2 separate regions of the Homo sapiens genome follow, and region 1 is linked to region 2. Evidence: fine-mapped QTL for protein levels in blood plasma. A gene starts in region 2. The other region holds a variant in brackets. All regions are shown on one strand. Distances are between the middles of the regions. Region 1 overlaps FABP12 (fatty acid binding protein 12). Region 2 holds the start of IMPA1 (inositol monophosphatase 1).

Evidence for each region. A credible set is the group of variants that fine-mapping cannot tell apart. PIP is the posterior inclusion probability: the model's chance that the variant is causal. Protein levels are from antibody-based Olink assays in UK Biobank. Linkage for the fine-mapping came from a reference panel and not from the study's own genotypes, which makes the PIPs less certain.
Region 1: its variant is the best candidate, but not a certain one, in a credible set for the plasma level of the IMPA1 protein (UK Biobank, PIP 0.59).

What each region holds. Positions count from the first base shown.
Region 1 is chr8:81,526,622-81,532,020 of GRCh38, reverse strand. FABP12 (fatty acid binding protein 12) reads left to right here. Exons shown (of 5, transcript NM_001105281.6): 2 at 631-778; 3 at 2,411-2,583; 4 at 4,900-5,001. The coding sequence starts at 706. All of the region lies in intron 3 of LOC101927118 (a long non-coding RNA gene), which reads right to left. Among named protein-coding and RNA genes, the nearest start is that of FABP12, 4.5 kb to the left of the region's middle. The variant G/C (reference allele first, on the strand shown) is at 2,697.
Region 2 is chr8:81,683,775-81,689,173 of GRCh38, reverse strand. It overlaps IMPA1 (inositol monophosphatase 1), which reads left to right and starts at 2,849. Exons shown (of 9, transcript NM_005536.4): 1 at 2,849-2,922. RefSeq lists an enhancer at 2,603-3,103.

The sequences.
Region 1 (5,399 bases), 160 kb after region 2:
TAAACCGTTGGGAAGTTGAGCTGGCACCTGGAAAAGTGTCAGTAACAGGGCTGTGTGTGTGTGTGTGTGTGTGTGTGCATGTGTTTGTAACATGATCTCTTTCCTTTCTTTTTTCTCTGTCCCATTCTCTTTTTCATTGTGCACATGACTTAAAGTGGTTGTTCTAGCCCTTACTAAACTTAACTTTTTACTTCAAATGTCAAGTACCATCTATGAAGTCTGTCTGGTGTTTAGTTGAAACTATCAAGAATGAGAATGATCTTCAAACAGCCAATAAATTGGCTTTTTCTGAATCATCTTTGGACAGACAGAGAGAGAGACCTGGGCACAAAAGTTCCACGGCATAAACACAGCTGTCCAGGCCCAGCTCTTACACACTGCTTTGTGCCTGGCAGGTCCTAGGGAAGGAAAGTAACATTTAGTTTTGATGCTAAATTGGTGTTGGAAAAGGTATATCTAGTTCTGCTAAACACTCTACTGTGTTTCCATTTTCATCCTGATGTATTTAAATTTAAGAAAGCTTTTCTGCTTTAGATGATACTCAAGGAACATTGCAAGGATTAGAGTTCCTTATTTTATTTCCTAACTTTTCTCATCTCATTCTCTACCCAAAATTGTATTAAAAACAAGTTCCCATACTACTTCAGGGAAAACCAGCATACACATGAAACTACTGTTCTTTGAGATCAACTTATCTCAGACAGAATGATTGACCAGCTCCAAGGAACATGGAAGTCCATTTCTTGTGAAAATTCCGAAGACTACATGAAGGAGCTGGGTGAGCTATGTTTACTTGCATATCATATCCAGTAAAAATGGGCATTTTGATAGCACAGAACTTGCTCTGTATAAAATAATATTAATCTTGAACTCCCTAATTTTTCACATAGGAAAAAATAAATATTGATTGAGTACCAGGATATAGTTCTGTGCAAAACTATGTTGGAGTTGACAATAATCTCTCATATAAGTTACCATTAATTTACATAAACTAACTAAACAGCAAGTGATTTTAATAAATGTTTTAAAACAAAAAAATACAACTATTTTTTAAAATGATTATTTTGTAAATGTTTGCTCTAAGCTTTAGGGGATCTTCAGAATAAAGTTCAGAGTAGATTTTGTTTTTCAGCCTCTGCTGGCTACTGGCTTTCCTTAGTGTGTGCCAGCAATGCTCCAAATTTTGCTCCCATTTTCACACTGCTCTCTCTTCTTCTGTAGTATAGCATCCCTCTTCCTCCCTCTTAAAAGGAAATTTATGATTATGTTTGAGATCTGCTCTGATAATCCAGGATACTCTCCCCATCTCAAGATCCTTAAATTAACCACATCTGTACAGTCTCCTAACATGTAAAGGTAACATTCACAGGTTCCAGGGATTAAGACGTGAATATCTTTAGGAACCATTATCCAATCTGTCACATCCTGTGATTGTGTTTTATGATATGAATTCCATGAACTACATTATAGTATTTTCCCAATATATCTTCCCTTAGAATTTTAACTTAGGTATTGCAGTATATGTAATGCTATTTCTACTGAAAATACTCCTACATGTGCTGCACAGAGCTGTGTATACAAGGATGTTCACTGCATAATTATTTGTAATAACCAAAATGGAAACAAATGAATTGTTCATCAACAGGGAGACAGACAAAATAAATTTTGGTCTATACACACTGTGGAATATTATGTACTATGAAAAAGTATATATCTATATAGAGTGACATGGAAAATTTTCAAGACATAGATAAGGGGAAAACTTCCAAGACAAGATAAGGGGAAAAAGCAAGTTGAAAAACAGTAGATATAACATATTTTTTAAAATCCTATAAATAATGGTGATGCTTGCACAACATTGTGATGTTCTCAATACCACTGAATTGTAACTTCAAATGGTAAATATATGTTATAAATATTTTACCACAATAAAAACATACATCATTGAGGAAACAAACCCATATATATATACATGTAAGAATACAAGTGAAGAGCTAAATATCTGGCAAAATCCATACCAAAGTATTTTGTTTGTATGTGAGTGGATATAATTTTAAAATAGGGAGATAGTTGATAGCTTTAATCAGATTTTCAAAGGGGTTCAAAAATCAGTAAGATTAATAGCTACTGGACTAGTGAAAAAGAATACTCACTAAACAACAACTAGAGACAGATTTTTTTTCTGCAAAGATAGTCTATTTTAACATGTCATGGTGGAGCTGCTGGCTTGGGATATGTGAAGTCATGCACCATTAAATCTGTTCAATTCGCAAACCTCCTAGTTAGCAAAGAATTATACAGATAATGTTGAGTTTTTGGAGTCAACAACAGATTTAAGTATTGTATTGTAATGTAATGTATTTGTAATTCTTTATGCAAAAAGATAATACTCCTTTTATCTGGTTTCCAGGTATAGGAAGAGCCAGCAGGAAACTGGGCCGTTTGGCAAAACCCACTGTGACCATCAGTACAGATGGAGATGTCATCACAATAAAAACCAAAAGCATCTTTAAAAATAATGAGATCTCCTTTAAGCTGGGAGAAGAGTTTGAGGAAATCACGCCAGGTGGCCACAAAACAAAGGTGAGGCCTACGACAGTCTTTCAGACACATTTCAAAAGAATGTTAGTCAGATATCATCCTCGGTAAGTAAGCAATTCTAGCAAACATATCTAAAGTCCTTAAGAGGAACTTTT[G/C]TCTAAAACATAGGTCTAAGGATGTCAATGTGAAGATACAAATCTTCTGGGATGCTTGTGAAAAATGCCTCCTGCTCACTGCCAGAGGCCCTGAAAATTGCATTTTTAATGAATCTGATGCAGACGCTTAGCAGACCACATTTTGAGAATCATTTCCCTAGATTACTGTTTAGTCCTCTCAGAAACAAAAGTTTTCCCTATCCATTTTGTAGCAGTTTTCTACACATAGAATTACAGTGAATAAACCTCGTATTAGCTGGCAGAGGTAAGGTTATGCCACCGTGACAATGAACCACAAGCCTGGAGTGAGTTAACACAATGGGGATTTATTTCTAACTTATAGTACATACGTAGTGTTGGGTGGCATTGGGGAAGTTTGTGTGTGTGTAGTGGAGTAAACAGGAAATCTGCTCCCCCTAATCTCTCAGGGATCCATGCCAAAAGAGGTTCAACTACCACCTGTGGACATCCTGGTCTTCTCCAACACCAGGATAAAGAGACATGGGCTTTTTATTGTCTCACCCTGAAAGTGCCACACAGAGTTTTCATTCATATCTCAAGGGCACATATCTCAGGAATATATTATTTATTTATAATATGTAATTTACTTCTACACGTATTGTTTACAGTCTTTTTCCCTACACCAGAATGTAAGAGCTCATCCAAAACAGGATTTCCTGTCTGTTTCACAGAACCCCGTGCTTGGTCATGACAGTTGTTCAATAAATATTTATTATTTGAATGAATGAACTCAATAGAGGATTGTTAAACTATATGGAGGATAATATCCTGATAAAAGGAACTATCATGCCACTGTAATAGTTACTAAATGAATATGAGAGTTTAAATTCTTGTACCATATAAAATGGAAGAAAATTTTTGACTTAAATGCTTAATATGGATTTCTATGCTAAATTCTTAAAAATCTACTAGAATAAAAAAGCTAGGTTGGGTGCGGTAGCTCATGCCTGTAATCCCAGCACTTTGGGAGGCCAAAACAGGAGGATTGCTTGATGCCAGGAGTCTACGACCAGCCTGAACAACATAGCAGGATCCCGCCTCTACAAAAAACACAAAGATTAGCCACTGTGGTGGTGCGTGCCTATAGTTCCAGCTACTCAGGAGGCTAAGGTGGGAGGATTGCTGGAGCACAGGAGGTTGAAGCTACAGTGAGCCATGATTGCACCACTGCATTCCAGCCTGGATGACACAGTGATACCCTATCTCCAAAAACAACAACAACAACAAAAAAAACTGGAAAATATTATTGGGATAAGAAGAGGAAAGAGGCCTTCTTTCTTTTAAGTAAGCTCATATAATGGGAGTTTGAATTAGTTTCACATGTATTATTATTATTATTATTCTTTATTGAGACAGGGTCTCTGTTGCCCAGGCTGGAGTGCGGTGGTACAATCTTGGCTCATTGTAGCCTCAACCACCCAGGCTCAGGTGATTCTCCCACCTCAACTTCCCAAGTAGCTGGGACTATAGGCATGTGCCACAACACCTGGCTAATTTATTATTTTTTATGGAGATGGGGGTCTCACTGTGCTGTCCAGGCTGGAGTTTCACACTTATTTTGAAAGTTAAAATGTATTTGTAATTCTTTATGCAAAAAGATAATACTCTGCTTACACAGTCAAAGATAAAAAGAACATTTCATGGCCGGGTGTGGTGGCTCATGCCTGTAATCCCAGTGCTTTGGGAGGCCAATGTGGGCAGATCACAAGGTCAGGAGATTCAAGACCATCCTGGCCAACATGGTGAAACCCCGTCTTTACTAAAAATACAAAAATTAGCTGGGCGTGGTGGTATGTGCCTGTAATCCCAGCTATTTGGGAGGCTGAGGCAGGAGAATTGCTTGAACCAGAGAGTCGGAGGTTGCAGTGAGCCAAGATCGCACCATTGCACTCCAGCCTGGGTGACAAGAGCAAAACTCTGTCTCAAAAAAAAAGAAAAAGAAAGAACATTTTACTTATTCTTCAAGATAATATTACAGTTTTACTCTTGTAAAACCTTTTTTCTTCAGCAGAATTAGGCAACAATTTTACTGCTGACAAAGTCTTAAAATAAATAGAGTTGTCAATACCATTCTAAAACTACCTGAGAGTATTACAACAGCTAAAAAGAATTTGCTGCCTGATAAAATTTTAATGTTGAAATATGACAAGCTGATCTGAATTTAGTTTTTTCTGTTTTTCAGAGTAAAGTAACCTTAGATAAGGAGTCCCTGATTCAAGTTCAGGACTGGGATGGCAAAGAAACCACCATAACGAGAAAGCTGGTGGATGGGAAAATGGTGGTGGTGAGTTAGCCCATCCTCGCTTTCTTCCCACCTTCTGCAACGACTAATATAAAATCACAACTTGTTCTCAAACAATGAAAATGAATGCCATTTTCCTTGTTCTCATAGTTTAAAGAATGAGAAAAAAATTATGAGATAAATGTATAATCGTAAGCATTATATAAAATGTGTGTGGATTGAGGAACTAAAAAACTAAAGAGAATGAAAATATCATGCAGCCTAATCCTTTGACTCACAGGTAAAACAAAGCAAGCATGTATTTGTGCAATGAAGATTTTAGCAGGGGTTGAGGGTTGTTGCCAATCCTCTACTCCACTCCAGGATTAACTTCTCACTGTTTTTCCATCTCAACACCAAACAAAAACATGAAAAGGAATTCTAGACCAGGGATAAGAAGC
Region 2 (5,399 bases):
ACATTCATTTACATAAACTTAGATGACCGATGACTTTTCTGTTAAAACTTTGGAAATATTAGTTGGTTACGAATGAGCACTTGTCAGCATGCGGTTGGCAATATTTTTATTTTAAGAAGATTGGCAATGAAGAACCGAAAAACTAGCCTCAGAAGCCTTTTTTTTTTTTCTAAGAAAATAAAGTATCATTTGATAGACATCCAAACCGGATACCTAAGGCATCACTCTTTTTGGATTAAAGATGTTTATTGGTCCTTGTGAGGTGTGAGAATTGAGTCCAGTCCAAATTACTCATCTCTAAGACATTTCATTTGAAATATATTGGTGACATTTTGTCTTTTGATTAAACAAACAGAAACAGTAACTTCCTAAGCAAAGAGCCAAATAACTAACTTACTTTCCTGGTCCAGTTGTAGCTAGGACATCTTATATCTGTGCAATGCTTTTTGCACTATGATGGTGTATGTACCACGATGTCGCTCTTTCTTTCTTTCTTTCTTTCTTTCTTTTTTGAGATGGAGTTTCACTTTTGTTACCCAGGCTGGAGTGCAATGGCGCTATCTCGGCTCACTTCAACCTCCACCTCCGGGGTTCAAACGATTCTCCTGCCTCAGCCTCCCTCGTAGCTGGGATTACAGGCACCCACCACCATGCCTGGCTAATTTTTGTATTTTTAGTAGAGACAGAGTTTCACCATGTTGACCAGGCTGGTCTTGAACTTCTGACCTCAGGTGATCTGCCTGCCTTGGCCTCCCAAAGTGATGGGATTACAGGCATGAGCCACTGCACCTGGCCAACTCTTTCAAGAAGAAGAAACATTTTAAGACCATAACTAGTCCTTGTACCTCATATAATGTGATCTCATTGTGCCATATATTCTCAGTGTGTAAACTTTTGTAGGGCCAAAGAAAAAACTTCCCTTTTGTCCTCTGAAGGTTTGGTGAAAATCAACTGACAAAAGGCAGATAAATAGAAGAAAAGGATTTTATTTGATCATAGTTTTATGTGACTTGGGAGCCTTCAGAATGAAGACCCAAAGGTATAAGGGGACAGTCCATTTTATGCTTAGTTTCAACAGCATATGGACAGCTGTGTAGAATATGGTTGGACAAAGAGGGTATAACCTAATGCTATTAGACTGGGGAAATCCAGTAAGACCTGTCTGCTTAGATTCTTCTTGGCCTCTCTCCATAGGACCCTCTTTGGAATGGGGGTCTTATGACCTAAACTCAGACAGGGTGAGTCATATAATTTCTTCGTGGTCAGATTTTACATAGAAACACAGGGAGAATGCTAGAGTAATATCTATCTATCTATCTATCTATCTATCTATCTATCTATCTATCTATCTATCTATATCTCTCTCTCTATATATATATATTTTTTTTTTGAGACGGAGGCTCCCTCTGTCGCCCAGGCTGGAGTGCAGTGGCGCGATCTCCACTCACTGGAAGCTCCACCTCCCAGGTTCATGCCATTCTCCTGCCTCAGCCTCCCGAGTAGCTGGGACTGCAGGTGCCAGCCACCACACCCGGCTAATTTTTTTGTGTTTTTAATAGAAACGGGGCTTCACCGTGTTAGCCAGGACGGTCTCGATCTCCTGACCTCGTGATCCGCCTGCCTTGGCCTCCCAAAGTGGTGGGATTACAGGCGTGAGCCACCTTGCCTGGCCTAGAGTAGTATTTTTATGTTTTATGGCTGGCTTTATAAAAAAGGGGTCCTGATTTCTGGGACCTGATTTGGGAAAGAGGAATTCTAGCTTCTATGACTAGTCTGGGGAAGAATGTGGGACCAGAGACAGGAGACCAAAAGGAGTCAGAGGAAAATTTTTCCTTCTAAGGCTGCTTCTGAGGCCTTCATTGTGGGGTATCATTTTCTGAACCCCAAAACTTTGAACTCAGTGTGTTTCACTCTCTGCTCTTGCTGTGTGACCTGAGGACAAATCACTTAACTACTCTGAGCCTCAGTTTCCTCATCTGTCTGACAAAGCTAATCATACCTTTTTCAAGAAACTGTTAAAACTTTAAGGAAAATAATGCATATAAAAACACATTTCGGCCAGGCGTGGTGGCTCATGCCTGTAATCTTTGGGAGGCCGAGGTAGGCGGATCACTTGAGTCCAGGAGTTTGAGACCAGCCTGAGCAACATGGTGAAACCCCGTCTCTACAAGATACAAAAATTAGCCGGGCGTTGTGGCAGGCGTCTGTAATCCCAGCTACTCAGGAGGCTGAGGCATGAGAATCGCTTGAATCCAAGAGGCGGACGTTGCAGTGAGCCGAGATCGCGCCATTGCACTTCAGCCCGGGCGACAAAAGTGAAATTCCGTCTCAAAAAAACAAAACAATAAAACCCCACACAATTGCTTGAAGCATAGTAAGTCCTCAATAAATAGTATGTAAGTAAATTATCAAGAATTGGGCAGTTGGTTCTGGTTATCAGTTTATTTTTTTTTAATCTAGTATAGGTTTACCAGCTTTAGGTTAGCACCTAAAAGCTGCATAATCGGAATCATATCTGCAATCTGGGTTTTGTCAAAATAGTACTATAGAATAAATGGGAGAAAGAAGAAAGCAAGCTAAATGGGAAACCGTGAATGAATGGAGGACGAAAGAAGAAAAAGGCAAAGTAAAGAGAGAAGTAATGTTTAAAAACTGAGAGATGAAAAGACAAGCAGGAGAAAAGAACCAGAAGCTAGAATGAAGAGGCAGTATCCCATGCTCCAGCGCGGGTCAGGACCCGGCCCGGCCTGGCAGAGGCTCGCAGGGCGCAGCTCGGGGCGGGGCCCAGCAAAGCAACCACGCCCCCTCAGGAATGGAGTTTTTAAGGGCGGAACTTCCTGTTGCGAGTAGCCCCTCTACCTCCGGAAGAGACGAGTGCGGTAACACCGTTCACAGAGCTAGCCGGACGTCCTCCGACTCAAGGTGAGACCGTTATTTTCCTCACCGCACCCTCCGGGTTCAGCGGGCGCTGTGGGTTTCCAGGGAGGCCCCTTCCCTCCTCAGGAGCGGGCGCGAGCGCCGTGCGCGGTCGGCGCCTAGGGTGGAGGCAGCCTCTGGGTGACCCCTGCCTGCTGCGTTATCCGGAGCTGCCCTGGGCGACCGGGAACAGTTCCGGCATTGGAGTAGCGGTTCGCTCACGCGACCTCACTTAACCTCTGTGGCGGCTTCTGTGGAATAATTGCCCCTTTTTATGTCCCCAACTCCGAAAAGCTCCTAGAAACTTGGTGCATCCCCAGGCCCAGGTAGTCACTCTAAGTGATGGGGCAGCGCCCAGGTCCTGTGCTGCCCGCAGTCGCGGTGCTGGGACAGGTGGCAAAAAGGAAGGTGGCCTGGCTCCTACGCTGGAAGGCTGTGACCAGGACAGAAACAGCAGGAAACAGTTCAGGTGTTTATGGCTTTGGGAAAATGAAAGTGAGTAAACTACGGACCCTGCCCATCAATAAATGTACTGTGATTTATATATATATAACTATTCATATATTATATATAACTATATATAAAAATATATATAAAATGTACTTATATACTTTATATATAGTACATAAATATACTTATGTATAGTATATATACTTATATATAGTACATAAATATACTTCTGTATACTTATATATAGTACATAAATATACTTACGTATATATACTTATATATAGTACAGAAATATACTTACGTATATATACTTATATATAGTACAGAAATATACTTAGGTATATATACTTATATATAGTACAGAAATATACTTAGGTATACATACTTATATATAGTACCTAAATATACTTAGGTATATATACTTATATATAGTACATAAATATACTTACATATATACTTACATATAGTATATAAATATACTATATGTATAGTACATAAATATACTATGTATAGTATATATACTATATATACTATATATAGTATCTATACTTATGTATAGTATATATAGTATCTAAATATACTTATGTATAGTATATATAGTATCTAAATATACTTATGTATAGTATATATAGTATCTAAATATACTTATGTATAGTATATATACTATATATAGTATCTAAATATACTTAATGTATACTATATATAGTATCTAAATATACTTATTTATAGTATATATATCTAAATATACTTATGTATAGTATATATACTATATATAGTATCTAAATATACTTACGTATAGTATATATAGTATCTAAATATACTTATGTATAGTATATATACTATACATAGTATCTAAATATACTTATGTATAGTATATATACTATACATAGTATCTAAATATACTTATGTATAGTATATATACTATACATAGTATCTAAATATACTTATGTATAGTATATATACTACACATAGATACTATGTATAGTATATATACTCCACATAGTATCTAAATATACTTATGTGTAGTATATATACTCCACATAGTATCTAAATATACTTATGTGTAGTATATATACTCCACATAGTATCTAAATATACTTATGTGTAGTATTTATACTCCACATAGTATCTAAATATACTTATGTGTAGTATATATACTTATGTGTAGTATATATACTTATGTGTAGTATATATATACTAGATATATATATCTAAAGATACTTATGTGTAGTATATATACTACACATTAGTATCTAAAGATACTTATGTGTAGTATATATACTACACATAGTATCTAAAGATACTTATGTGTAGTATACTGTAGTATCTAAAGATACTGTGTGTAGTATACTATATATAGTATCTAAATATACTTATGTATAGTATACTATATATAGTATCTAAATATGTATGGTATATATACTATATATAGTATCTAAATATACTTATGTATGGTATATATACTATATATAGTATCTAAATATACTTATGTATGGTATATATACTATATATAGTATCTAAATATACTTATGTATGGTATACTATATATAGTATCTAAATATACTTATGTATGGTATATATACTATATATAGTATCTAAATATATAGTATATAAAGTATATTTACTGTATTATATATGTGTATGTGTGTGTATGTGTGTGTGTGTGTGTATGTGTGTATGTGTGTGTGTGTGTATATATATATATATATAGTTTGCATCCACCATTCCTGGCTCATAACTCCCATAGCCCTTGACAGGAATCTTGGCCCACCTTTCTGTCTTAGAACTAGCCATGAAGAAATTCTCTGACCTACCTTGTCTGACTGTAGATCGTAAGACCTCCATTTCACAAGGGGTCTTGCCCCATATACAGGAGAAAGGAATGCTGGACAGAGAGGCCAAGATGAATCCGAATGGACAGTCCTTGCTGGGTTTCCACAGTCAGTCTGTTCCATTTGGATCATACTGATTTTGTGGGATCACATTTCTACACAGTTGTCAATCATGCCTATCCAGTGATTATCCAGACTCAG